4 separate regions of the Homo sapiens genome follow, and all the other regions are linked to region 1. Evidence: fine-mapped expression QTL. A gene starts in region 1. Each other region holds a variant in brackets. All regions are shown on one strand. Distances are from middle to middle.

Region 1 (8,468 bases):
TTCAGGGTGAAGTCACTAAGTGCTGTCCTGGCAGGTGACAACCCTGGAGTACCCAGGAGAAATACAGATACAGGATTCTTGGGCAGCTCAGAGGAGAATCAGAGAGGGAGCTGCTAAGCACTAATCACGGGGTACCCATGCCAATGACATGATTGTAAAAATGTGTACTGCTTGCCGTTTTGTCGGCCAGCAAAGCAACATCTTCTCTCAGGATCCAAAAGGAGATTACAGCTCAGCCTTTCAGCCCAGAGGAGGAAACAGTTTTCCCGTGCCCAATTCCTTGTTCACTGGTACATTCAAGCTTATGCCTAGATGCCAAGATGAAAGTCCTTCCTTCCTTCCTTCCTTCTCTCCCTCCTTCCTTCCTCCCTCCCTCCCCTCCCTCTCTTCTTCCCTTCTTTCCTTCCTTTATTCCCCCTCCCTCCCTCCTCTCCCTCCCTCCTTCCCTCCTTCCTTTCTTCTCCCTCTCTCCCTCCCTCCCTCCTTCCTTCTTCTCTCCCTTCCTTCCTCCCTCCCTCCTCTACCTCCCCCATCCCTCCTTGCCTCCTTTTCTTCTTTCTTCCCCTTCCCTCCCTCCTCTCCCTCTCTCCCTCCCTCCCTCCTTCCTTCATTCTTTCCTTCCTTTCTTCCCCTTTCCTCCCTCCCTCCTTCCCTCCCTCTTTCCCTCCTTTCTTCCCCCTCCCTCCCTCCTTCCTCCTTCCCTCCTTCCCTCCCTTTTCTTCCTTCCTTTTGTTTTTTCTTTCAGCCTGCCATTTTCAGTCACAAACTTTTGCGGAATACCTGTTATGAGGCTTCCACTTTCCATTTATCTCATCTTCCCAAAAACTCTATGAAATCTCTTATTACACTTTTATAGATGATAAAACTGAAGCTCAAGAGAGGTTAAGAAACTATCTCAAGTTTACCTAGATAGTAGGTGAGCTGGAGACAAAATCTTTATATAATGATGCTATATCCAGTGCCCTTTTCTAATAGTTCAATACATCTAAAATGTACCACAGGAGATCTGATTATGATGGATTAAAAAGTATTAATGTGTCAGTGGTCACAGTCTTCTCCCCTACCTCTATCACTAAAGAGAATTCTGATTTTGCCCACAGTTTTCCTTTCCCCTTCCCTCCCCTAAAGACAGGAGAGAGAAAATGCATAGCTCTACACAATGCAGAAAAGTAGAGAGGAGGTAGGAAAGGAGAGATGAAGAAAGATGTGTGTTATGTATTTAGAGAGAATTTGGGGGGCACTGGAGAAAGAGGAGCTTTAAAGCAGCTGAGATAAGAAGGGCTTAGAGAGAGAGGAGGATGTTAGTCTCTAAGAAGTTCAAATGAAGGATTTGATTAATGATACATTTCTCTTGGCTGCTGGACTATGTTTCATTGAATAGGACACTTATTGAGACTGGATCACATGGACCTCATCAATTTATTAGGTTTCATAATCAACCTCCGATCCTGTAAGATGGAAACCGTCCATGTTTCTGGGTTCAAATATTAAATTTAAGTAGAACCCTCCATTTAAATGCTAGAGGACCAAAACCAGGTCAAGTGATTTGTCCAAGTTCACATAGGTGGTTTATATCACTTATCAAATGTCTAAAACCATGTCTTCACATTCCAAACTCAAGGCTGTTTCTTTTACACCACATTGGGTTTTCACACCATTGCCAATGATATTATGAAGTGAAATTTCGGATCTGAGTGGGACACCACTAGAAACAGAGGAAAATGTGGAGGCTGGATAGTTTCTGGATGCTTATTCTATTCTTGTCTTCGTGATCTGGTGCACAGTCTCCCATCTCATCGTCAGTCTCTTTCTATTGCCCAGACCAAAACATTTTTTTAAACTACTTATCCTGGGAGGGTGGTGCCATGAATTCGCGTCATCCCCCAGCCCCTGCAAACTGAATGCCTTGGGTCCATAGATAAATGGTGAATATAATTTAGTATCACTCTGGTGCAGTGAGTAGTGCAGACAAATAACCTTCACTTTTCCCCAGGTGGGGAAGATGGGCTGTGCACAAAGATGTCCACTGTGCGTGTGTGCAACGGGAGAGGGAGTCCAAGTTCCAGCCTCTTCCCAGAGAGGGGGGCATAGGAGGAGACAGCACCTGGCTGAGGTGTTACTGTATCTGTGTCCACTTGGGGAGGGGTGAGTGGCCACAAGTGAGAGGAATACCTCCCAAGGCTTGAATGAGGGCTTCTGGGGCAGGCTTACAGAAATCAGTAGCCAGGAGGGGAAAAGGGCAACCACTTGAATCCTTTGTGTCTGTAAACACCACTAGCCAACTCTGGCTGGAACTGAGTAACTGTAGGATCAGAAAGCTCTAATCTGCATTTTCCTTTTATGCTGTTTCAAATTTTAAAAGTTGTTTTCCAAAAGGGTTATTTCAGAAAGAAATTAAATAAACCTCTAGCCGACCTCAGCTGAACTAAGGGAGGGAAAAGCAGATTTTTACTGAATCTGAGTTTCAGGAAGCTATGGTTTTTCCTTCTAGAATGTGGTCTCTGTGGTAGTATTTCATGAAGAAACAGGAGAAAAAACAGGAAAGAAGAACTCAAAGCAAAAGAAAAGGCAGATCCCACGCAGCTTCCTGTCCTAATTGTTCCATGTGGATTCAACTGTTCTCGGTTTTGGGAGAAATATATACTTGTTCAGGTCTCAAATAATCTGCCCCTGAACTCAAAGGACAATGAGGCCCCCAAACAGTCTTTAGCTATTACCAAACAGGCTTCTTACCCTGGGGACCCCCTTTACTCCTTAAGCTTATGCTCCCTTTTGCCACAAACAATATTGGGACCCAAAGACAGAGCCAGCACTACTTACAAATTTAAAATCACTAGGCAAGGTACAGTGAATCAAACAAACTTCACTCCTACTTTACATTTTCAAATCCGTTTGCCCTTACTAGAATAGGTTTGAACTTGCCTCACAATAAGGTAATAAAGGCAAATGGATTTTAAAAACTTGGGCAGAGAGGAGCTCTGGGAAAATCTAGTTGTCAACACGTATCACCCTGATAGGGCGTTATTTAAAGTATCCATTTATTAGCAAGTTCACTTTTGTTTGCTTGTTTTGTTTTTAAAAAACTTTTTATTAGGTAAAATTTGAACATGCACCAAAAAATAGAATCAGATAATGAATCTTGGGACTAGCTGCAAGTTCACTTTTAAAGCGTTGTTGCCACCCACATCCAGACAGCTGAGGGAGGCTGAGACTGAGATCTGCGTCCCCCCAGGGCCTTTGCTCCGATCACAGGTAGCAAATGTCAGGGAGAAGCTGGCCAGGGAAAAGCCGCCACAGCCCCCGAGAGGGCTCTGTCCCTGGGGAGGTATGCTCCTTAGCAGCTCTGTTCGGTAACTCGGTGGCAGGGAAGGAGGTGGGGTGGTGGGGGTGGGGGTGTTGCTTTCCTTTTGAAATGAGATTCCATGGCCCCGAAACTATGATTCCCTCCCTCACCCTTTTTGTTTGTGTTGTTCTTGTCTTGGGGATGCAAAGTGCTGTTAACGTGAGCTTCCCCAGCCACAGGGACAGGATCTGTCTAGATGGGGCCACCAGAGGCAGCTGCTGTGTTTCGGCTCCACTCCAGCACACAGGGTGACACGGAAGGCCTCCATTTCTGATCCATGTATCCAGTAAGCTTTTGGAAACCCATCCCAGTTTCGTGGGGTTTGGGGGTGTGTGAATGAGTGAGTATGTGTGTGTGTGTGGGGGGGGAGAGAAACAGGGAGGGGTGGTCACGTGACAGTCTTTCCAATCTGGATCCCAATTAAGCCGACACCAGCCAAAAGAAGAAATCAGTGAGTGAAGTGACCACTTGGCCCTGGCCTTGCAAACCACTGCAGAGTCCGAAGCCCCGAGTGCTCCCTGGGAAGAGGAGAGCCGAGGACACTCTTCGCCCCTGCTTGCCACTGGGGGCCGCAGTCACCTTCAGCATAGGGGAGTGGGGAGACGCGAACCCCGCGGGTGGCTCCGGGTGGTGGGCTCCCTCCAGCGCGCAGCTTCCGCTCGCTTTCCCCTCGGCGCTGCAGCCGCGACCTGGGACCGAACGGACACCGCCTTCCCGGGGCTCCGGCGGCGCTCTGACTCCCACTTTCCTCCGCCGCAGCCTCTGGCAGGGCACCCCCTTGGCGCGACGCCGCGCCCCTCCCCGGGACCGCCCCCTCGGTCCCCCAGGGTGCGCTCAGTTGCTGCCCGTGCGCCCCGCCAGCTTGAGCGCCCCGGGCGGGCGGCGGTGGAGAAGCCCAGCCCAGCTCTCCCCAGCCGCGTTCCCGGCCCGCGCTGCTCCCAGCCTGCAAGCCCATGACGTGGCGACGCCGACCGAGACACAAAGACCGAGGCTGAGACCGCCAGGGGTTGAGGGTGAGGCCGCGTCCCGGGGCCGCTGGAGCGCGGGCGTCATGCGAGACTGTCCCGGCTGCGCGCCGCCCCAGAGGAGTCCGAGCGCCCCCTTCAGCCGCGGCGCGCTGGCCCTGGCCGGGACTGCAGCCAGGTGGGCGCCGCGCGTGTGAGCGCCGCGCGTGTGAGCGCAGACCTGGACTCGGGCGGCGGAGGCGAAAGTCGCTCCATCCGCGGGGTGCAACCCTGGGCGCGGAATCCGGGCTGCCGGGTGACAGTGACCAGCTGACTCTGGAGCCTACCGGAGGCGCGGCATCGGAGGCCGTGCGGACCACTGCCGAACAGCCGCTGGAGACCCGCAGAGAAGGGCGGGCCCTGCGCCCGGGGCGCCTCGGAGGTAAGTTCGGAGAGCCCGGGCCGGGCGGAGGGCGGGAGCGCACGAGTGTGTGTGTGTGTGTGTGTGTTCGCGGTGTGCCCGCGGCTCGGTGCACACGCGCGCGGGTTGTAAAGTCAGGAGCTGCGGGAGCGCCTCCCTGCCTCGGCTTGGCCCCGGAGCATTGCGGGCCGCGGAGGTGTGGGGGCCCTTGTCGCTGCGCTCAGGGCAGCGGCGGAAAAGGTGTGTGCGGATGCGGGGCGGGGCCGCACCTGGTGGACAGAGCAGGGATTCGGGAAGAGAAGCCACGGAAGATGATCATGCAGTTTGGGGCAAGTTTTCCTGGTTGAGCATCGCTTCAGGAAACGGTGTTTTGAGGGTTAAATATGTGAGCTATCTGTGCAAAAAGCCTGACACATCAGAGGCGCGAAGTAAGATGGAAAGCTGGACAAGCCCCAGGTGGACCGACCGGTGCATCCAATTCTTAAATTGAGATTTCCAGTCACGTTGATGTGGAATGGGATCGTTGTTCTTCCCGAGGGTTTGATAAGGATGCTCAACTTCACCTGTCAGAAAGCACGGGAGCTGGGCCTGGCCCGCGGGGAGCGTAAGCTCGCTCACACGCGGTCCAACTCAGGCAAATGCAGCATGCCCGACCTGCTCTGCCGCCATCCCTCCGAAAGCGATAATTTCCTTGGGCTACCGAATCCATCAGAGTAGTCATTTGTCCCCTCGCCGGCGGTGCGGGGAGCGTAACATTTGAGTAGCCTAACTCTCACAGCGCGCACTCCAGCATTGTTTTGCTGGAAGATTGTTACTGTGGTAAGCGGCTGGTAGCCTGTGTTAAGCAGCAGGGAAGATAAGGTTGTGTTCAGGTGCGCTTAATTCAGCGGGAATTAAGTTATGTTTGGTGAAGATCTAAGGAGAGGAAAAATCCAGAGTTTCTGCTATAAACAATGTACATCTATCTTAAAGGCTTCTCACCCATTTCTCTTGTGGATGGAGCCATGTGGTTGGGAGGTGGTAGAACCATGCCGCCATCCCTGAGGCTGTGGTTGGAGGCCTCATTGCTGGGCTCTGCAATTTTATGCTCTGTGATATTATGCATGGCATGAAGAGTTGCTAGGAGGAGTGTGGAAGCAGCTTATGTGGCCAGTTATGCATCCTTTATTCCAGCAAACGAGCTGCCACTGCTACCTCTCTCTGATGGAGAGGGACGGTAAATGGCCCTTCCTTGTCATTTCTCAGACACCAGCATTACTGGGCCCGCCCTGCAGGTGGAAGCTAGCTCACTGCTGTGGCCACAGGATGTCTTTTGAATTGACCCTCATTGAGAGCCCGGCGGCAATATTTTGGGTATTGTTGAAATAAGAGAAGTGGATTAGAGAGAGTAGGATGCCTGGAGTTGTACAATACCCTTTAATGGGTTTTCCTCTTGTGTATCAGAGGAGGGTAGAGCAGGAGACGGTGGTGAGTCTGCAGAGAGGGCAAACTTAGAGATTTTCTCAGGCTACTGGAGCCTGGAGGGAAAAACCTTAAATGTCTGATAAATAAAGTCTGATTTTTATTGTGTGTGTCTGAGAGACTTGCATAGATCAGGGAGTATGTGAAAATAAATGTCAGTTGCCAGAGAAAGAATAGATCAAACAGTTTATTTGAATTTCTGATGAGTTTGGTGAGGAAGTGTATAGCACTTAACATTTGGAAGGCAGACAAAAGGTTTTGTTGTTGGTGTTATGTTCCTTTTGAATTTTAGATACATAATGCGATTTTTTTTCTGGCCAATGCTCCAGGCAAAATTGATGTCTTTCCACTTTCTAAAACCCATCATATTTATGAACTCTCTGATACTCTGTCTGAAACAGTCGTGCTCCTGTGAGGTTGAAATATCTCTCCTGCCTCTATTCACAGCAGACGCACAGAACTGATCTGGGAATTTTCTCACTCAGGATTCCCAAAATGAGCCCTTTCTCAAATCTTGACAAACGTGCAGCAGAAGCCATTGTTGCAGTTATGGCTCTGTGCCTGCTGGGCAGGGATTTAAAGGCCAGGAGAAGGCAGGGGAAGGCCCTGCTCTCTGCTCCAGCCAGGTGGTAATATGCATTCTCAAACTAGCTAGGAAAAGGTTCTAGATTCCTCAGTGAATCTATTGCTGAATCCCACTGATTAGCTTTTCCCACTGACAGACATTCAAATCTTTGTTTTTGGAGCTTCCTCTGCAGACTTGGTGTAAATTTCAAAAAAAGAAAAGAAGGCTATGAAGCTTAAGACAGGCAGAGACAGTTGGCTTCCTACCTAGGCATGCTTCAAACTCACTATATGACCTTGGTAAATTATGTAACTTTAATGCATGCTTGTTTTCACATGTGTAAAATGAGAGAGTATCAGACTAGATCATGGATTTGTTTCCCCTCTTTTTCCCCTTCTCTCTCGAAGAGTAGAACCCTTTAAATTAAATCTTTTATAAAAGGTAAGTGGCCGGGAGCTGTGGCCCATGCCTGTAATCCCAGCACTTTAGGAGGCCGAAGCGGGTGGATCACCTGAGGTCGGGAGTTCAAGACCAGCCTGACCAACATGGAGAAACCCTGTCTTTACTAAAAATACAAAAAATTAGCCAGGCATGGCGGTGCATGCCTGTAATCCCAGCTACTCGGGAGGCTGAGGTAGGAGAATCGCTTGAACCTGGGAGGCAGAGGTTGCGGTGAGCCGAGATCATGCCATTGCACTCCAGCCTGGGCAACAAGAACAAAAATCCGTCTCAAAAAAAAAAAAAAAATACGCAAAACAGATTAAGAGCAAGGGAGGGACATAGCAGCCAGTTCACTCTCAGTGTGGTGTCTGAAGAACCCTTTGGAACCCCTACAGGCTTTTCAGAATTCAGTTTGAGAATCACTGGAAGCTTCTCTCTGCAATATGGCATATTCCCTCTCTGAATGTTTCCAATGAAATGTTGTGGTCACCTAGCTCAGTGTTATAAATAGTCATGTACCTGTAACTGATCCTCCTGGATGGCTAGCTAAACCCCTACAATGTCAGCTCTGGGAGGACCATAACTTTTTCAGCCCTGGACCTTCTGAGTCTCACACAGTGCCTGGCATGTAAGTAGGTGCTTAGTGAATGCTTATTGAATGGATTAAGAAATGAAGAGGGAGTAAAGTTATTCTGGCAGACCAAAGACTGGTGGATGATACACTATGGTGGAAATCTTAGGAGAGCAGGGACTTTGATTTATTTGTTGCTATATCTCTAGTGCCTGGCACAGACAGATTTTGGCTTATTGTAGGAAGTCCTTTAAAATAATTAAAGTTAATACTGGGAATGGATTGCCCCAAGAGGGGATAGAAGCATATATATGGTGGCTATTAATTTTGTTCTTAAAGATTCTGGCTGTCTCTGCTTCTGGGCACATGGTAAGATTGCATTTTCCTGTTAATTTGAAATCAGGTATGGCCATGTGACTTGTTTGGCCAGAAAGTACATGAACCTTTAAGAGTCAGCAGGTGCCTCACCATGTTCTCCCTTTTCCTCTGTTTCAGTGGTAGTTAAGTCTCCAGAAAGTGGCTGCTCCTCCCTCAGCCTGGGTCTGGGATTGAGGATGATGTGGAGCAGAGCTTCTTGCTGACGCATAATGGACATGTAGCATTGATAATAAACAAACTGAAATCTGGGGATTATTTGTTGCTGCAGTGTAACCTAGCATACGTGACTGATGCAACATGTAAAGAACTTAGGATCATACTGGCTGCTGATCAGGATAGCAGTG
Region 2 (8,468 bases), 120 kb after region 1:
TGTCATCAAGGTGTCAGAATGCAAGAAGGATCATTCTTACATGTGTAGTCTTTAGCATAAAAAAAAAACATTATTGGCACCTCAGCCCATCACTACCTTTTAGCAGCTAAAATGAAGCTTGCCTGTAGCCCTGCATAACCTGGGAGCTGGGACAGCCAGGATCCAGTTTGACACGTGGCTCATGGGAACAGAGAGGAGAGGGAGAGGCTGTTTGCTGAGCAGCTACTATATGCCAGGTGCTGGGCACCCTGCAGTGTGCATTATACACATTTTTGACAATCTTGACAATGACCCTGCCACCAAAATCCTGTGTTTCTCGAATTACAGAGCTGAACCTCAGAGAGGAAGGAGGTAGCTAAAGATCACTGTTGCCAGTTTCTCCTCCATAAACTCACCTTGAACTCCACTGATGGGCATATGTTTCTAAGACAGAGTTCTGTTCATCAAACCACTCATTTCATAGCACCATACTCATCAATGAACACCTTCCGATTTTCCGTGGCACTGGCCTGGCATTAATCTGCTATTCAGGGCCTTAGTGCTGATTTCCTGTAAACCTCCACTATTTTGCGCCTACTCCAATTTTTGCATGCTTTTCCTCCCCACTGGGATGTCCTTTCCTCCTCATTTTTGCTTGGTCAAAGTGTTTACACCCTTCAAGGCCAAATTCAAAGACTACCCCCCTCCTTCACCTGTCCCAGTAGCATTTATCTATCCCACAGGTTTTTTTCTCCTTCAAGTGTTGGCCCCAGGGTTCCTTCCTTGGTGAGACCCACCCTGACTCTCCCAGGAAAATTCAGATATTCCTTCCTCTGGGCTCTCACACACTTCACCCCTAGTTCCATTGTGGCACACCATGTAACCTGCCCAGATACAAATGGAAGCAAATGGCAACATGATAGTATCTTGCAATGGTGAGCCTTAACTCTTGCTTTCTTTTTCCACCAGGTACCACAATCTTAATTCTAAGCATATGTTCAGGCAAGCCATCTGTTTACAACACCATTTGGGTCATGTTTTACAGTCAGAACTTAATGAAAAAGACAACAAAATGTGTGAACATCCTACAAAAAAATAGGCATAGCATAGATATTAAAACAGGAAGAAAGCTGCTAAGGATGGTCTGTTAGAGAGCATGAGCTGTAGCATTATGCTGCTATTCCCATGGTATACAAACAGGGATCAAATGCTCAGTCTGACTTGGTTATGGTGGGAGCCCAGAGTCAGCTTAGCTGGAGACATCCCTAGGCCGGGCCAGTCTGATTCTCTTGTGAGCCCCGCAGTGTTCTCCTCCCATGCGATCTCACCTGCACTCGTGCTTCTGATTTTTGCCCTAGAACTCTGATTTTTTTTTTTCCAGTATTAAGACTTCTTCACCTAAATCCAGTTAGGTTTACTACTATTATAAATAAGCTTCACATTAAGGCATCTGCCATTACCTATGAAAAAGATTTGGATTCAAAACAAAGGAATATACACTGTACAACTTTTTTTCTTTCATTCTGATGTCATTACAGATATTATCGGTTTTAAATGTTAAGTTTCGTATGGCAATATATATCTTTAAACATATTTCCTGATTATAGTTCAAATGTTTCTCTATGATATTTTGATATCTTAAGGTATATATTTAAAGTATATACTTCAATAATGAGGAAACAGACAAAAGCAAATCAACATGGATAGCAAAGGACTAAATATGAGACATTACAAGCTCTGAAAAAAAATACTCGCGACTATGAGCAGATCTTGGTCAAGTCATTTAACTTCCCTGAGGCTCATTCTTCCCATGTGTAATATTTCAATAGCAGTTGCTCTGTCAAGCTGTTTGAGATCAAATGAGATGATGTAAAAACACATGGCAAACTGTGAAGCAATGCAAAAAATAAATGGTATTATCATAGGCCAAAAGATCTCAAGTTTCTGATGGTCTCTATAACAAATAAAGTTATGGCCTGCTCCTTTTGCATTCACTTGAGAACTCCCAGTTTTGGTCAATTAGATTGTTATGGACAGAATGGAGCCAAAATTTATGCAAAGAGAATATCCCTAAGTTTTAGCATCCAGAATTGTATAGTTTGTTGTGAGTGGGAAACAACTGCTTGAAGGGGTATACAGAATACCAAATAATGAACTAGTATATTAAAAATCCAGTATTTCAGTAATAAGACTTCTTTATCCAAAGACAGGTTTAACTCTAACTAGGCTTAGGCTACCTCTTGATATTTACTAAAAATAAATAGGGGCAGACTTCTCAAAAACCCTGGTTCCCGGCCTTTCCTCAGTCTCTTCTAGAGAGACTTCCATTCCCTCACCATTGGCTATCACATAGCATAGTAACATTAAAAGGACTATCTCTTATAACAGCTCAAAAGAGTTTTAAAAGCATAAAGAAGCATGATATTTAAGCCTTAGTCTGTATTCACGCTTTGCTCCAAATGCAAACAGTATCTCGCATCTTTCTTTATAAAGTCCTAAAACAGCTACATAATGCTGCAGCACGCATTCTCTGTGGCCAGGCAACCTTTTGCAGCTGTTTTAATAGCCTGCTAAACCAATGAGAAGGCTCTTTCAGCCCCTTAATAGGAAAAGTCATTTCTTGCTTACGGTCAGCACTAACATTGATTCCCAATTGCTCAGCCCAAGGCCTACCTATAGAACACCATTAACCATTCTTCAGACTAGAGTGGTCAGGACACTAAAGTTTAACCATTTCATATCCATGTTCTCTGGGTAACTGTAGCAATCACTTTGTATTTCAGTCCATCTGTGTACATGTCTATCTCCCCCTAGAGATGGTAAGCTCTTAAGAACACTCAGTGAGGACTTTCCATCTTCATATTCTCAGCACCGGCACACAGCCTGGCACAGAATAGATGCTTACAGATTGTTGTGTAAATGAAGAGATTATTTGTATCCAACATACTTCATCAGATTTCATCTTTAGATCTCACTTCCAGCTCAGTACCTGCACAGGTAGACTAGAGAACTCAAATCCAAATGCCTGCTGGGACCAAGGAGGCGGCCTCAATGAAAGAAGACAACCTAGAGTCGTGGGATGCAGAGATCAGGAGATCACCTGCCCATCTAAAGAGAGCAGCTCCTTAGGCCCTCATGATTACTGGCATGTAAGAACACAGGCCAATTGTGGCTAGACCCTCTGATTGTTCAAAAGAATCTAGAAAATGTGATTCTCAGCTGGGCGTGGTAGCTCATGCCTGTAATCCCAGCACTTTGGGAAGCCAAGGCAGGCGGATTACCTGAGGTCAGGAGTCAGAGACCAGCCTGGCCAACATGGTGAAACCCTGTCTCTACTAAAAATACAAAAGTAGCTGCGTGTGGTGGCGTGCGCCTGTAATCCCAGCTAATCAGGACTCTGAGGCAGGAGAATCATTTGAACCTGGGACACGGAGGTTACAATGAGCTGAGATCATGCCATTGCACTCCAGCCTGGGTGACAAGAGTGAAACTCCATCTAAAAAAAAAAAAGATAGAAAATGGGATTCTCACTTGAAGTTTCCCTGCACAGGTCAAACAATACAGACCTGTAGCTTAAATCCTCTTACCGGTCTGCTCTGTGCATCGCTTCTACTAGATATTCAGTGACCGGTTAAGTAGCTAAGAGGTAAGTCAGGACTTACTCAGATAAGTTCCATTCTGGTGGAAAGTGTGACTTGGCCCTGGGACCCCCATAACACATTGTCGCATTTCCAAAGAGTTAGCCCTGATTTTAGAAACAGGGATCCTAGGGTCTTCACATTCCTCTTTTTGTCTGTTGTGGTCTATAAAGGGTTTCAAATTATTGCTCTACAGGCTCTAAGACCTGGGCTCCTGTTCCCTTTAAGACTAGCTTTGGCTTTACAAACTAGCAAGCTGTATTTTAAAGCTGGTCCCTGAAGTTAAGTGTATACTGCATTAGAACATATGTCTTATTGATTTGTGGAGCCTTCATTCCAGTGAATTATCTCTTGCTCATTATCAACCAACGACCTTGTTTGTGCATTTGGCAAAAGCAAGGGGAAGAGGAGGATGTGGACTCATTCTTGGCAAGCAGATGCCTTAAAGGACCCCACCCGGCACCCCCTTGCTCTGAGACATAAAATACCTTTTGTATTAAAGCACAGAGCAGACCTCTTCATCTCGAGACCATTCCCAAGGAATCAGAAGCCATTGATGTGTATCAGGACTTTAAATTGTTTTTTCAATGTGCCTTAAATTGCAATTATCTGCATGAAATTCATTAGCCATTGTATGACCTAATTATCCCATGTTG[G/A]CAGAGATTTCAGAATTTACGAAGCTTCCCTTCCTGAGCAACATAATTTTGCAGGAGCCACACCTCTGTCTCCATGCTCTTGCCAATGCTTCAAGGTGGCAGGCGTGCTGAGTCACAGCAGGATAGTCTTTGAAGCCCAGGGACACACTTGGCCTGGACAGGGGAGGTGATGATGAAGAAAAGAAAGCCTGTTGCCCAATAAACATCAAAGGGTGGGTTGCACCATCCTGCTCTTGCCTACAGATTTGACCCAGGCTTCAGGATCCTCCTTCCCTGGACTTCTGACTCAATGAAGCCCAGCTACTGCTCCAGTGGCCCCATGTGCTCTGAGGAACCCAGAGGTCCCAGTCTACCATCTGTGTTCCGTAATTATCTGAAGATGGGATGAGTCCTCTTAGAATTCCTAATCCCCCATTGTAACAGGAGGGGCTGTGCCCAATGATGGCACAGAATCACAGAATGTGTGGACCTCTAGAACCATGGGGAACACCTGGTCCAACTCATTTCTTTTCTACATGGAAAGACTGAGGGCCAGAGAATTTAAGTTTCTCACCCATCTGGGAAGAGAGAGTGCTATGTCTCAAGTTGAGGCCCAGGACTCCAGGTTTGGTACTTGTCCTCCACCTTCTAGGTGCAACACTTGGAGATCTGTCTCTGGGTAATTCAGGAGGGCACTTCCTGCAGTGAGATTGAGGCATATCTTCCAAATAAGGCTGGTTGGGAGAAGGAGGCTCCTAGAGTCATTTGTTCCTTTGCTGCTGTATTCTACAGATGTCTATGCATGCCTGCTGCAGGTCAGGCTGTGTGTTCCCAGTGATCAGGAAAACAGAGTCCATATTCCCATGGAGTTTACAGATCAGTGGGGGAGACAGTATTAAAATAATTACATAAATGAACACACAATTATCCACTTGTGAAAGGAAGGGAGGAAGGAAGGAGAAGGAAGAAAGGGAACACAAAGTGTTATGAGTATAATATAGAATAATGGGAATCAGGAATGACTCCATCGCACAGATGGAGCAAAAATTGTGATCTGAAGAAAGCTAGCAGCAACTAGACCTAGAGGAGGGAAAGAAAACATCTACACAGAGGCACGGGGGTGGGGTTCATGCTCTGTGGATGCTCAGAGTGAGTGGATTTCCAGGATTGATGCCAACTGATGTGAGGAACAGCGTGAACAACTGAAATAACGTTTCACACTCTGCAAAGAAGCAAGACCAGATTCCACTTAAAGGAACTAGAATCTGAATTTACTAGGAGGCAGTGACAGAAGGAAAAGCACGTGATTTGGAATCAGAAAGATTTTGGTTTCAATTCTAGCTTCATCAATTACAAGCTGTTGACCTGAGCAAGCCACTTCAAGGTTCAATTTCCTCATTCACGACACTACAGTAAAAATACCACATAGGGTTGTTGTCAGGGATTAAACATTTTGTACAGCTCTTGGCACAGAGTAAGTGCTTGAATTCGTTTTCTAGGGCTGCCATGGCAAAATATCACTTACTGGGTGGCTTAAGCAACAGAAATTTATTTTCTCCTGGTTCTGGAGGTTGGAAGGCCAAGATCAAGGTGACAGCAGGGTGGTTTCTGGTGAGCCTCTCTTCCTGGCTTAATAGACAGTGCCCTTCTTGCTGTGGGTCTTTCTCAGTCCACACACACTCCTGGCGTCTCTTCTTCTTCTTATATGGACAGCAGTCATGCTGGATTAGGGCCCACTCTTAGGACCTCACTGCACCTCTATTACATCTTTAAGGCCCTATCCCCAAATACAGTTACACTGGGGGTTAGGGATTCAGCCTGTGAATTTTAAGGCGACATGATCCAGTCGGTAACAGTGCTGAATAGAAGTCATCATTTCTTTCTTCAATTTTTCTCTACCAAATGTAAAAGCAATGATAGAAGAAAATGGAGTGATGCTTTTACAATACTTTAAGAATTAGGATGTTCTCCGAGAGTGCTTCTTAGTGAGTTACTTCTTAGTGAGGTCTACAGTATTTCACTTTACAACCATCCACCCTTAAGTGATAAACCTCACAGGAACCCACTCTGTGGTGAACACTCTCAAAAATAAAGAGGAAAGCGGGAAATTGGAAATGGAAAAACACCTGGGGATGCCTATGTGACCATCTGCTCACTTTAAAAAGTCATCAATGTCAAGAAGAATGTCAAGGATAAGGTAATAATAGAACAGGAGAAAATAGAATTAACTGTTGAGAATTGATTTTATTAACTAAAGCTGTGGCTCAAAAACAAGCTACAAATAACCAGAACTAAAAAGGATGGGAAAAGATAAAGTGGGATCAAAACTCAAATTGTATCAATGAAGAATGGGAGGGGAAAGAAGGAAGAAGGAAAAGTAGCAAAACCTCTAATATCTCTCAGCAGTTATGAAGGAGGGTTAAAAGTTGTCTTTGTCTGGAAAGTTTAAAAATGAGGATTATAGCTTTAAGAATGTTAGTGGAGTGTCTCATAAATTGATCATAAATATTTTTATTTTAAAATTAGAGAGTAACCTCTTAAAAATACGTCTTTAGGCCGGGCGCAGTGGCTCACACCTGTAATCCCAGCACTTTGGGAGGCCGAGGCGGGCAGATTACGAGGTCAGGAGATCAAGACCATCCTGGTCAACATGGTAAAACTCTGTCTCTAATAAAAATACAAAAATTAGCTGGGCGTGGTGGCACATACCTGTAGTCCCAGCTACTCAGGAGGTTGAGGCAGGAGAATCACTTGAACGCGGGAGGTGGAGGTTGAAGTGAGCCAAGATCGCACCACTGCACTCCAGCCTGGGAGACAGAACGAGACTCAGTCTCAAAAAAAAAAAAAAAAAAATCTTTAGACAGAAAACAAAGTAAAACATAGTCATTTATTGAACTATACATCAAAAATCAAAAGAGACGACAGAGGACAAGAAGACATAAAGTGAAGTGACAGCATGGTGGTTATGAAAATGGATATAAGTGGCCTGTCCCAAGCTATGTAAAGATTATAATTTTTAAAAGTTAGTGTTAAGTTGTCCATAAGATCTGCTTCTGCTTCAGTGGCAGAAGGGTAATAAAAGTTTAGAAATGAATTATTGGACCCAAATATGCCAGCTGAATTCAAATCAAAGAACAGCAGGATTAATTCTGGACAGCATAGTGCTTAAAAGTAAAAACTTTACATAAGATTTGCAAGTGTATAAAGCAAAAACTGTAAAAATACATAAGAAATCAAACAAAAACATGCTTGGGTATAAGAATATAATTTACTGTTATCAGGCTATTACAGACCCAAGTATTTAGAAATGAGGAGCTAGAAAAAAATAGATGACACAATAAAAACAGTACATCTACTAGACTTATTTCAAATCTTGTAATGCAAAAATATGGATTACTTTTTCTTTTAAAGTATATGTAGTCGGTCTGTAAGCAAAAAATCATCATATGCTAAATCATAAAGAAAACACTGGTGAGTACCTTATGGCAGAATTTTTACAGCTAATATTTTCAGATCAAAATGCAATGAACTAAACATTCATAATATATGTTAAAGAGAAAAAAACTCAAATATATAGAAACTAAAAATAACATCCTACACGCTACTGTGTGTAAAACACGAGAGCAAGAGAGTGAGGCAATGAAAGCAAGAAGTGAGAATGAACTGAAAACAAATCCCATCTGGAGAAAATAGAAGAAATGAAATAATACCAGCAAAAAATGGAAACGAGAAATAATGGAATGAGAAGGGGAAAAAAAGAAGAAGGCAGTAGAATGCAGGGACTACAAGCCCTATATCTCAGGTCAGGTGAACCTGGGTTTGCAGCTCCATTTCAACACACACAGCTCTGCAACTTTGGAACATTTAGTTCACTTCTCTGTGCCCTACTTTCTTATGTTTCCCATCTGTAAAATATAACAACTTTGTATAAGATTGTTGTAAAAATTAAATGAAAGTAAATGCCTGGTAAAGCTCACAGCACAGTGTCTGGTAAATAATGGATAAGGGCTCACTAAATCTTGAGAGGCAGAATGTGGTCACGGCTGTTGTTGTAAAAGTAGTGGTAATAGTAGTGTTACTAAAAACTAGAACTTTGAGAGGAAAACAAAACAATAAAACAGACAAGCTCCTGGTCGATCTTTTAACAATATCTGAATCACAAAACAGACCATTAGAAAGGAGAATGAGAATCTAGCACTAAGTGGAAAGGAAAAGT
Region 3 (4,000 bases), 34 kb after region 1:
GCTCACAAGACCTGAGCCAAACTGTTTAATGAAATACAAGCTGATTTCTCCTTCCATATGTAGCACGTGGGATAAGCATATTTGTGGGAGCCAAGCTATGGATTATGTTTCCATACGGAGCAGCCCCAGGTAAGAGCCATCCCCGGAAGCTCTGTGAATGCAGTTGTGGCTGGAGGGCATGTTTTTTGTTCACCCACAAGCAGGGCTGGGTTTTGGCCACACTTTTATTTTGGTGGGCAGCTCTGCCTGGTTCCATTCACACTGGGTTGATCTGTGTCTCCAGATCACCACAGGAGCAAAGGAAGCACCCTGTCCCCCTACCTGTGCACTTAGCTTTGTAGGCAGTGAGGCCATAGCACCAGGAGTGCCCGTTCCGTCCAGGCTCTGGAATGACCATGCACTTGAAGCACAGTTGGTGAGAGCTGCCTGTGGAGATCGGGTATGGCAAGGCTTCCCTGAAATGGCCTTGCTCTAAAAGAGGGCTGTGGGAGGTACAGTGTGGTGGAGAGAAGAGACTGCCTTCTGGTAGCACTGGGTTTTCATCCAGGACTCTTTCGCTGTGTGACCTGAAGCATTCACTCCATCTGATTGAGGTTCAGTCCCTCCACCTGTTAAATGGACATAATAATATCAAGCTTGTGAGTCATTGTAAGAATTAATATATTTAAAGTACCTGGCATCAAGTAGGCACTGAAAAAGAAGGCCCTTGGGGGCTGGTCAATGATGCTGAAATCAATCAACTTTGCATGGTGCTTTTTACAGTCTCTCAGTTCCAGGCACAGTGGCCTGTGAGGCCGGAATTGCTATGACCATCTTCAGTTTACAAATGAGGAAATCGAGGCCCCAGGAAGCTCGATAATTTGCCCCAGGTCAGACAAGTCTAAATTCATACTGGACCATCTGGCAATAAGTCTCATGGTCTTTCTCTTCTGCAATTTTCTTGCCATTTCATTTTTCTCTTGTTAAGGGTTTAGTGGAGTTTTATGTTACAAAAGAAAATGATTGCAATGACATTTCTTTATCTTGGGCCTTAAATGACAGCAATTATGGGAAGGGGCAGCTCTGTCCAGACCCTGACAGTGAGGGTTGTGGGGGCATCAGTAGCAACCCTAAGCCCTTCCTCACCCCCTTACCTCATGCATGTTACATTCCCACTTGGACTGCATACCCCTTGATCCTTCAGGTCAATCCCTCTTCTGTCAACTTCCTGCGGGCAAGGAGGCTAGACAGGGATTTGATTCTCCCTCCGGTGGAATATTTCATGATTCTCCCTCCGGTGGAATATTTCATCAGTATCACTGGATGACCTTGAAAGAGTTAGATTAATTAAGTGAGCCATAGGCTGAGAAACATCTTTGCAAAGTTTGCAGGGAGGGAGCTGGAAGATTTACCCCCTACAGATATGTGAGCTTTTACTGCACCAGTGTTTATAAGCATAAAGATAAAATTATAAAAATTAAAAATAGATATTGGGGTTACAGAGCTTTAGGTGACATTACTTAAAAATCCAAAGGAGAGAGTATCCAGTTGCATAAAATATGAGGAAGTAGAGAGTTCAATAGCCGTGTGAGGGTGTTTACAGCAAAAAAGAGCCAACCTTGAGAGCTTGGTGAAGGCAGTAAGCACAACCTTTTTTCTTTTCATCTCTTTGCAGACTCGAGTACAGTCTTAGGGCAGTGTTGGTGTCTGGACAATCTTCCCGGAGTTCCTTTGTGTTGAGATATACATTCACCATCAGTGGTGCCCACTTGAGGGCGTAGGCAAAGGTGCAGACCCCGTTCTTCTTTCCAGTGTTTGCCAGGG[CTAAT/C]TAATAACTGCATACACTCACCTGTGTCCCTTGAAACCTCAGTATTACCTCTTTTCTACTTGGTGCGATTACAGCTTACAGTTATTGAAAAAACTAATTAAAAATAGTTTATTTCACACACTGAATCCCAGCCCGTAATAGTGTATATAGCTATGAAAGAAAGCCAATTTCCTTCTGTCTGAGCCGGAGGGAATAAAGTACAAAATCTGATGTGTCATTTAGACACTGTTTGGCTTCTGGGCCAGCCCTAGGATGACTGAGAAGAAGAGCAGGTTGTTCTACCCATAGTGTGCTGAGCCTGACTTCCAGGTGCCAGGGTAGGGAGGGCTGCTGGTCTGACCCCCACCAGCACCCAGCCTTTAGGGGTGCCTCAGCCACTTCTGCAGACCAGTCTTCCAGCAAAATATGCCCTTTAGTGCCTATTAAACTGCTGAAGGGTGTTCATGTTTTCATGCCAAGGAGAGCAGACTGGCCCCAAGGGCCTGTGGCAAGCAGAGCTTTGGTGGCTCAAGCAGGAGGAAGAGGCGGTCCAACAGTCAGGGTTCAGCAGCAGTGGAACTGCTCTGGGAAGCTCAGGGAAGAGGCTTCTGGGGCTCTAGCAGAGGATGCAGGAGTTTCTTGCAAAGGCTGAAGGGTTGGACAGAGCACTCTGCACAATAGGGACTTTTCCCCACATTGAGAGTGTCTTGGTTTCTATTTTGGGTGCCCTGAGTGTCCAGGACCACCTCCCACCCTTCCATGTAACTTGAGAAATTAAACAGCAGTCTCTAAACATTATGCCTCGGCGAGGGAAGGGACCAGGAAGATTTTCTGTGATGCCTAGATCCCCTTCTCTTTCCATTGTAGTGTCGCATAGCATGTTCTAGAACGGGGGCTGGCAAACTTTCTCTGTAAAGGACCAGATAGTAAATCCTTTAGGCCTTGTGGGCCTTATAATCTCCCATTGTACAATCTGCCATTGTAGTGTGAAAGCAGCTATAGACAATTTGGAAACAAATAGGAGTGGCTGTGTTCCCATAAATCTTTATTTTTGGACACTGAGATTTGCATTTCATATAATTTTCATATGTCATAAAATATTCTTTTGATTTTTTTTCAACCATTTAAAAATGGAAAAAAATCACTAAAAATCACTCGTAGTTCAAGGGTTGTACAAAGACAGGTGGCAGGTCAGATACGGCCTGCAGGCCATAGTGTGTCTACCCCTGTGCTAGACAACTATGAGCAACAGGTAGATAATAAAGCCTGAGGGGTGCAGGGCCTGCGGGTTGTCAGTGTCCTGGCAGCAGGCAGGTGACATTCTCAAAGGGGTAGCTAAGGAGGGGACTCTTTACAATAGCTGGTGAAGCACCCAGAGACCAGCACCAGTAGGAAGCTGTTGCCACCCTTGGATCTGAAGGGCCAAGGGAAAGGGGCTGTTTCTGAAACCCACTGAGACCCACAGCTCTGAGAGCAGGTGTCCAATAGGAGCTGGGCCACTGCCAAACTACAGCCCAGCCAGGAGGGAGCTGGGGGAATAAATACCTCAATCTCTCTTTCTTCTTGTCTTCATTGGCTGAACCCCCATGGGAGCTTGAGGGCAGGGGAGCCCCCATGACGTGTCCATGTACGTTATATTCCTAGGGGCACAGAGCAAGATGAAAAAAGAGAATGAATCTAGAAGGTCAGGCAGAGAATTACTAGCATGCATTAGAATCATCACTGTTCCATCAATAAATGGTACAACTGAGTTTTTTAAAACTTTGAAAGGTTTGTTTTTTGAGCCTGTGTTTGTATATGTGTATGAATAATTTTTAATGTGCCCATGTTTATGAGCATTAAACAATCTAAGAAAATCTTAAAAATGGATATTTTGTTTGCATTTCAAAGACTTAAATGACCTCACTTCGAATTGCAATGTGCTGTTGCTTTTATGTGACACTCATATTATTAAATGCTTGCCATAAAATGAGAACACTGCCTTTCTTCATGGAAATAGATTATAACTGTCAACGTGGAATAGGATTCACGGAAAATACAAGTTAAATATGGTATTTCTCCTGATGACAGTTGATTAACCTCAGGGAGATCAGCAGACAAATGTCAGTGGGGGCTCTCTCTTTGGGGAAGCTGCACCGAGTCTGAAACTATTGCCAAGGCAGGTCTAGGGTGGGAACAGTCTGCCATGGGGTTGGTAGACCTTGACTTTGAGCA
Region 4 (8,468 bases), 200 kb before region 1:
TGGATAATTTCAAATGTCCTATCTTCAAGCTCACTGGTTCTTTCTTCTATTTAATCAAAATTTCTGTTGAAGCTTTCTATTAAAATTTTCAGTTCAGTTATTATATTTTTTATCTCTATAATTTCTATTTTTTATTGTTTCAATTTCTCTGTTAAATTTCTCATTTTGTCTGTGTATTCTTTTCCAAATTTCATTTAATTTTCTCTGTATATATTCTTTTAGTTCCCTGACCTTCTTTAAGAGGGTTATTCTGAATTATTTTTCAGTCATTTTATAGATCTCCATTTCTTTGGGGTCCATTGTTGCAGCTTTAGTAGGGCTTTCTGGATGTGTCATGATTCCCCGATTCTTCATAATTCTTGTGTCCTGTTATGGTTTGAGCCCTCTAAAAGTCATACAGAAACTGAATTCCCAATACCAATAATATTAAGACCTGTGGCCTTTGGGAAGTGATTGAGTCATGAGGGCTTTGTCCTCATGAATGAGATTAGGACCCTTATAAAAGGGCTTGAGGTTGAAGGGAACATCCCCTTGCCTTTCTGCCTTCTGCCATATGAGGACACAGCAACAGGCGCCATCTTGGAAACAGACAGCAGCCCTCACCAGAAACCAATGCCAGCTTCTTGATCTTAAACGTCACAGCCTCCATATTTACAGCCTGCTAATTTTTGTATTTTTAGTAGGGACAGGCTTTCTCCATGTTGGCCAGGCTGGTCTTGAACTCCTGACCTCAAGTGATCCACCCCCATCAAGCCTCCCAAAGTACTGGGATCACAGGCATGAGCCACAGTACCAAGCTCTATGGTGCTTCTTAAACTGTTGCCAGAGATGGGAGAATCTTACACCACACTATACCAAACTCTGATACAAATGAAAGATAGAAAAAAGAAGGGAAAAAAGAAGAATTTACAGATTAATCTCAATTATGACAACCAATGCAAAAATCCTAAATAAAATATCAGCAGAGAGAAAGCATAAGACACTAAAAGAAAGATACACAAAGATAAATAAAGCCCAAGAATGTAAGCATGGCTCAATACTAGAAAATCTGATGCCAAAGAACTCATTTGCCATTGCTCAATCTTCATTTTAGGTTTTTAAAAAAATTAATAAAATAGATACTTCCTTAGCATTACAAAAATTTATAATCCTCCACCCCAAACAATCACAACTTAATGTAAAAAGCCAAAAGCATTCCCATTAAAGTCAGAAATAAGAACTCCTATTATCATACATGAGAAAGACATAAGAGGTAAAAAATTTAGAAAGGAAAAAGCACCTGGTTATAAATTTATATCAAAAATCAAACCTTCATTATTAGTAACCAGTTAGAAAATTTAACAAAAGATGTGTTAGTCCATTCTTGCATTACTATAAAGAAATACCGGAAGCTGGGAAGTTATAAAGAAAAGAGGTTTAATTGTCTCACAGTTCTGCAGGCTGTACAAGAAGCCTGGCACCAGCATCTGCTTGTCTTTTGGGCAGGCCTCAGGGAGCTTACATCATGGCTGATGGTGAAGGGGAGCCAGTGGTGTCACATGGTGAGAGCAGAAGCAAGAGAGAGAGAGAGGGGAGGGGCCACACACTTCTAAACAGCTGGATCTCGCATGAACTCAGAGGAAGAACTCACTCACTCATCGCCAAGGGGATGGTGGGTGCTAAGCCATTCGTGAGGATCTGCCCCCATAATACAATTACCTCTCACCAGGACCCTCCTCCAACACTTAGGTATTACATTTCAACATGAGATTCGGAGGGGACAAACACACAAACCATATCAGAAGAAAAGATGCCTTTTACAATAGAAACAAACTAAATATTTAGGGACAAATCTAATAATCAATGTTAGGGCCCTATGCTAAAAACTTTAAATTCCTATTAAAAGCCAGAAAAAATAATTCAGTCAGTGAAAACCTCCCTTGATTTTCTTTAGAAGAGTACTCAATAGAGCAGTTTCAATTTCTGAATGTAATCTCTAAATTCAGTGTGTTTCCAATCCAATTACCAAGAGAATTTTGTTTGAAATTTGGTAAGTTAAACTAAATTTTATCTGGTAGAATGAACACATAATTGGAATCAGAAAAAAAATTAAAAAATAAGAATAATGAACATGACTATGATACTATCAGGTATCAAAACATTGTCATAACCCACACAATAAAATACAAAAACAAAGACAAAACAAAAACATTGTTTAAAGCTACAGATATTTAATACAATATAATTTTAGGGCAGAAATAAACTAAGAGACCAGTGTAAGAAAATAGAGAGTCCAAAAATGAATTCAAGCACATATGGGAATTGAGTATTTGATTAAAATGGCATCGTTAAATTTATCAGCAAGGATGGGTTATTCCATAAACGGTGTTGAGAAAACTGGTTAGTTATTTGAAGGGGGAAAAATTGGATTTCTTACCTCATTCTTCATGTGCAAATAAATTCCATATGGATCCAAGAGTTAAATATAAAAATGAAACCATTAAAGCTAAATTAAAAGAATGATTACAGAGTAGTTCGCATAACTCTGCAAACAAATTTTAAAACTTGGATAAGAACAAAGGTGAATTTTTACAGCCTTAAGAGTATGATAAAAAACACTAGGAGACATATCCTCCCAGGGGACTGTGGGCCGAAAGAAGGCCTGCCAGGTGAATCATGAAGGCTGAGTTGAGGCCAGGTAGGTAGACAGGTGGGAATGTGTTCCAGCACAAGCTGGCCCCTAAAATGCCCTTCCCCATCATCCTTTGTTAAGCAAGATCCGCTTTCCCAGCTATTACCTGAAGCAGACATGCATGTAGTAAATAGTAGGCACAAATAGTTAGCAAGTACTAATACTGCTAAAAGACAACCTGAAAAGACAGACAAATCGGCTGTTAAAAATGACAAGAGGCCAGGCACAGTGGCTCATGCCTGTAATCCCAGTACTTTGGGAGGCCGAGGCGGGCGGATCACGAGGTCAGGAGATCAAGACCATCCTGGCTAACACAGTACAACACAGTGAAACCCCGTCTCTACTAAAAATACAAAAAAATAGCCAGGTGTGGTGGTGGGTGCCTGTAGTCCCAGCTACTCGGGAGTCTGAGGCAGGAGAATGGCGTGAACCTGGGAGGTGGAGCTGACAGTGAGCTGAGATCACGTCACTGCAGTCCATCCTGGGCAACAGAGCGAGACTCTGTCTCAAAAAAAAAAAAAGACAAGAAATAAAGAGGTTAGAAAAATGACTAATTGCCCACAAATGTCCAGGATACAGGATGAATACCAGGCATAATCAATTAGGAAATTTACAGCTAAAGAGATTGCATTCACAGTAACAAAGTGTATTAACTACTTTGGAATAAACCCAGTGCAGGATGTTTGTGACCCAGGTAGAGAAAGCCGTACTACTTTTGATTCCTAAAGGAGACCAAAATAAATAGAGAATTGCAGTCTCCTGGCAAGGGGGAACAATAGTGTTAAGATACTGATTCTCCTCACATCCATTTATAGGTCACGTGTGGTCCTATTGCCGTGTGTCTGGTTTTGCAGCACTGTTGTACATTTGCAGCACGGTTCCAAGTTGCTTCTATGCAGCTGACCAGACTACCAGGTCCGGTAATTCCAGGTGGAGGTAGCCTTTGAGTAAATCTCTGCTTGTTTAATCCAGTGGTTCTCAAATTTGAGCATGCACCAGAATCACCTGGAGGCTTGTTAAAACTCAGATTACTGAGCCGTATACCCAGAATTTCTGATTCAGTAGGCCTGAGTGGTACCCAATAAGTTGTAGTTCTAACAAGTTCCCAGGTGCTGTTAATGCTGCTGGTTGGCAAACTCGAGTTAGAGAACCACGGGATTAGTCAAATGTCAGTGTAATGCGGAATGGGCAGAGCAGTCTGGACTCCGAGGCTCTTGGGATCCCCTCTAAATCTAGACAAATTTCCAGCTTAATCGCAGTAACTTTCAATAGGAGCCAGGCCTGGCAGGTGACTGTCATTTTTTACTGCCTTCTTTCTATACTTTGTCAGTGGGGAAGTATTGGGAAAGCAAGAAGGCAGCAGAGGCGGCTGTGCGTGTGTGTGTGTGTGTGTGTGTGTGTGTGTATGTGTGTGTGTGGCCAAGCACTTGAGATTTCAAGGCTCATGGGATTTAGACACAAATTCCTGAAACTAAGTGCTAGCCTTTATATCCTCTATGTAGCCCAGTAAATCCTAATCTAAATCTCCAATACCTCTCTTGAAACTTGACAGAATAGTATGCCCGGGAGAATAAATGGCCAAGAATAAGAAACAATTCTGACAGGGGTTAGGGGAGGAGAGGTAGGGAAGATTTATCTGCCTTTCACAAAAACCTGTTTTAAAGCAATAGTGATAAAAACAGCTGAAGTGCAGTCATAAAGAGAAAACTGTATATAAATCATACAAAAAGGACACAGAATTAGATCAAATTATATGAAAGGTGGCTATAACGTGTGAAGAGCTGAACGTCAGTAAGCAATATGGAAGGAAAATTTAATAAATCATGTTGAAATACTGAGGATTGAATTTGAAAAAGGAATTAGATTCACCGAATCTAATTCTGCTCACCGAAATTAAAGATAAATAAAGATGATAAATCATAGGGAAAAAAGGTTACATAGTACACAATTTACCATTTGCCATACTTCTTTGGAAGTGTAGGAGAAGTGAAAGAGAGCGCTTGGGGAGTGACTCCCAGA[C/T]GTCAAAAACGTTAGTATCTTTCTCATTTCATCCCTACAGCAGCCCTGTGAGACAGCCATTACTCTCTACTCTCAGATATGGAAACTGTGGCTTGAAAAATCAAGTTATTTTCTCAAATTCAAATAGGGAGCAATCAGAAGAGCCTCAATCTGTCTGACTCTCATCCTGGGCTGCCCAATGACTGCCAACGAGTCAGGGTGCAGGGGAGGCGTGGCTGCCCAGTTCAGAAGATGAAGCCCCAGTGCCAGTCCAGTCCTAGAGGGGCCTGGGATGGTGGGAAGAGGAACAAGATAGAACCAAGGTTGAGGGCGATGCAGCAACCCAGTGGTATGAACTTGGTGAGCCTAGCAAGGGTGAAAGGCAGTAAATACATTCCAGGGGCCATGGGGGCACCCAGGGAGCTGGCTGAAGCAGAGGGAGGATGAGCTGCTGGGTCCCAGGGAAGGCTGGATATTTGATGGAGAACTGGGGGACACATATGAGCCAGAATTTGTCATCCACCTGACTTGCTCCTTAAACATCCAATCTCATATGGTTTAACTGTGTCCCTACCCAAATCTCATCTTGAATTGTAATTCCCATAATCCCCATGTGTTGTGGGAGGGACCAGGTGGAAATAATTGAATCATGGGGACAGTTTTCCCCCATCCTGTTCTCGTGATAGTGAGTTAGTTCTCATAGATCTGATGGTTTTATAAGGGTTTTTTCCCCCCCTTTTGCCCAGCACTTCTTCTTGCTGCCACCATGTGAAGAAGAATGTGTTTTCTTCACCTTCCACCGTGATTGCAAGTTTCCTGAGGCCTCCCCAGCCCTGTGGAACTGTGAGTCAATTAAATCTCTTTCCTTTATAAATTACCCAGTCTCGGGTATGTCCTTATAGCAGCGGGAGAGTGAACTAATATACAATCCCATCTGCCCAGACATAACCCTGGCACCCCTTTTATGAGGGGCCTGCCGAAGTCATGTGGTGTCACAGAAGAGCAGGTTCACTGGGTCAAGGAAATGGGTTTCACTGTCTGTCTGCCACTTTCTAGGTGTATGGCTTTGATCCAATAATCGAATCCCTGTTAGTTTCCTCAGTTGTACATCAGGATAACAATGTCTACCTCACAGAATTCATGTGGAGATTACATGAGACAAGTCAGGAAAAACACCAAGCTTAATAAATGGTGCAGAGTAGACATTCAATCAATATTTGTTGAATAAGTGAATGTATTTATATATATATATTTCACTGTATATATTTACTCACTAGCTCTGGAGGGGGTTCATCTAGCTAGTTCTGCTTGGAAGACAAGAATTTTTCATCAGTTTTAGCTGAAACATTCCAATTTAGGAAACTGGGTCAAGCCATATCACTGTGCATTAATTATAAGTTGTGATTCCAGCAACCTGTAGAAAGATGAGAAAATGGTCCAGTACCTTCAGTTTTTCACAGCAACAAATGTACCTTTGACAGTTCCATGATCACCACCCCTTCCAATTGCTTGGGCCTTCATTGCTTACAAAGAGCTGCTCACACCCATGATCACATGTAACTCACCTTCAAGGATGATCGCGTTATTCCATTTTGTAGATGAGAAAATTAAGGCTCCAAGAGGTGAAAGAGCTTGCTTAGATCATGCCTGGTGGTTGGTGGCAGAGAAGCTGGAATCTGTGGGATGTGCCTAAATTGATTATCGCTAGAGCATGTGCTTGGTTACTTTGTTAAAGGCATAAAGGATGAATTCAAGGAGGATCCTGCCTGGTGTTACCTGCCTCTGGCTCCCCTGAACCCCTCAGGTAGAGGTTCTGAGGGTCCCATCTATATATTACAGCCTATCCCTGTTCCAGAGCCAATTTGGAAGGAGACAGAGGTGAGAAGCAGCCTCAATCCTGTAGACTTATGGGGCCACAGGAACTATTTCTGTAATATCATTGCATCCTGGGACCTGATAGCCCAGCCAGGATGCTGTCATCTACTTGGAAGCCATGGAGATGTGACCAGGGAACTTGGGTCAAGTCCAGCTCAGGGATGGTGGTGTTTATCTGGAGTGACAAGATGTTACACAGGTGAGGAAAAAAACCTACTATTGATTTTTTTGTGAAGAGACGAAGACTGAGTGGTTGTGGCCGTGTTGGTGACCTTGAGCAGCAGTTGGCTTCTCCATGTAGAACCCGGGAGTAGGAGACTCAGAATCGAATCTCTTCTCCCTCCCCCTCCTGTTTTCAGCTTTGTGAGAAACCTTATCAGCAAACACAATGGCCAGCAACGTTACCAACAAGACAAATCCTTGCTCCATGAACTCCCATGTGTTCATTGGGAATCTCAACACTCTTGTGGTCAAGAAATCTGATGTGGAGGCAATCTTTTCGAAGTATGGCAAAATGGGCTGTGCTGTTCATAAGGGCTTTGCCTTTGTTCAATATTTTAGTGAGAGAAATGCCCGGGCTGCTGGAGCAGGAGAGGATGATAGAATGATTGCTGGCCAGGTTTTAGATATTAACCTGGCTGCAGAGCCAAAAGTGAACCGTGGAAAAGCAGGCGTGAAACGATCTGCAGTGGAGATGTATAGCTCCTCTTTTCACTTGGGCTATGACTATCAAGGTGATTATGATGACACGATGTACAGTTACTCAGCACGTGTGCCTCCTCCTCCTCCTATTGCTTGGGCTGTAGTGCTCTCAAAACGTCAGCGTGTATCAGGAAACACCTCATGAAGGGGCAAAAGTGGCCTCAATTCTAAGAGTGGACAGCAGGGATCTTCCAAGTCTGGAAAGTTGAGAGGAGATGACCTTCAGGCCATTATGAAGGAGTTGACCCAGATAAAACAAAAAGTGGATTCTCTCCTGGAAAACCTGGAAAAAATTGAAAAGGAACAGAGCAAACACGCAGTAGAGATGAGGAATGATAAGTCAGAAGAGGAGCAGAGCAGCAGCTCCGTGAAAAAGATGAGACTAATGTGAAGATGGAGTCTGAGGGGCGTGCAGATGACTGTGCTGAGAAGGGGGACCTACTGGATGATGATGATAATGAGGATGGGGGGATGACCAGCTGGAGTTGATCAAGGATGATGAAAAAGAGGCTGAGGAAGGAGAGGATGACAGAGACAGCACCAATGGCATGGATGACTCTTAAGCACATAGTGGGGTTTAGAAATCTTATTCCATTATTTCTTTACCTAGGCACTTGTCTAAGATCAAATTTTTCACCAGAGCCTCTCACCTAGTATCTTTGGCACATGCTCACTGTCCTTCCCATCCTTGTCCTTCCCATGTTTATTAATTCATATTGCCCTGCGCCTAGTCCCATTTTCACTTCCTTTGGCACTCTTAGTAGTTTTGTTAAGTCTTACCTTGTAATATTTGCTTTTAATTTTGATACCTCTTTATGACTTAATAAAAAGGATGTATGGTTTTTATCAACTGTCTCCAAAATAATCTCTTGTTATGCAGGGAGGACAGTTCTTTTCATTCATACATAAGTTCAGTAGTTGCTTCCCTGACTGCAAAGGCAAGCTTATTTAGTTGAGTAGCTCCTGAAAGCAGCTTTGATTAGAAGTATGTGTGTTACACCCCCACATTAGTGTGCTGTGTGGGGCAGTTCAACACAAATGTAACAATGTATTTTTGTGAATGAGAGTTGGCATGTCAAATGCATCCTCTAGAAAAATAATGAGTGTTATAGTCTTAAGATTTGTTTTCTAAAGTTGATACTGTGTGTTATTTTTGTGAACAGCTTGATGTTTGGGAACTTTTTTTCCTCAAAATAAACAGGTCCTTATTAAACCAGGAATT

Direction of the effects. Alleles are on the strand shown, and positions count from the first base shown. SD is a standard deviation of normalised expression in the study named. Not every link is listed here.
As copies of C replace CTAAT in region 3, the expression in pancreas of the gene that starts at base 4,525 in region 1 goes up (moderate effect, 0.71 SD a copy in GTEx).

Evidence for each region. PIP is the estimated chance that this variant, and not a neighbour inherited with it, causes the effect.
Region 2: its variant is the best candidate, but not a certain one, in a credible set for the expression of MINAR1 in adrenal gland (GTEx, PIP 0.74).
Region 3: its variant is the best candidate, but not a certain one, in a credible set for the expression of MINAR1 in pancreas (GTEx, PIP 0.71).
Region 4: its variant is the best candidate, but not a certain one, in a credible set for the expression of MINAR1 in tibial artery (GTEx, PIP 0.54).

The regions. Positions count from the first base shown.
Region 1 is chr15:79,427,812-79,436,279 of GRCh38, forward strand. It overlaps MINAR1 (membrane integral NOTCH2 associated receptor 1), which reads left to right and starts at 4,525. Exons shown (of 4, transcript NM_015206.3): 1 at 4,525-4,729.
Region 2 is chr15:79,544,963-79,553,430 of GRCh38, forward strand. No RefSeq gene overlaps it. Among named protein-coding and RNA genes, the nearest start is that of MINAR1, 120 kb to the left of the region's middle. The variant G/A (reference allele first, on the strand shown) is at 4,274.
Region 3 is chr15:79,463,632-79,467,631 of GRCh38, forward strand. All of the region lies in intron 3 of MINAR1 (membrane integral NOTCH2 associated receptor 1), which reads left to right. It overlaps LOC105370918 (a long non-coding RNA gene), which reads right to left. Exons shown (of 4, transcript XR_007064729.1): 3 at 1,134-3,426; 4 at 207-608. Among named protein-coding and RNA genes, the nearest start is that of MINAR1, 33 kb to the left of the region's middle. RefSeq lists an enhancer at 200-1,399. The variant CTAAT/C (reference allele first, on the strand shown) is at 1,804.
Region 4 is chr15:79,229,400-79,237,867 of GRCh38, forward strand. The region is part of intron 1 of ANKRD34C-AS1 (ANKRD34C antisense RNA 1); the gene reads right to left. It also overlaps the pseudogene HNRNPCP3. Among named protein-coding and RNA genes, the nearest start is that of MIR184, 24 kb to the left of the region's middle. The variant C/T (reference allele first, on the strand shown) is at 4,691.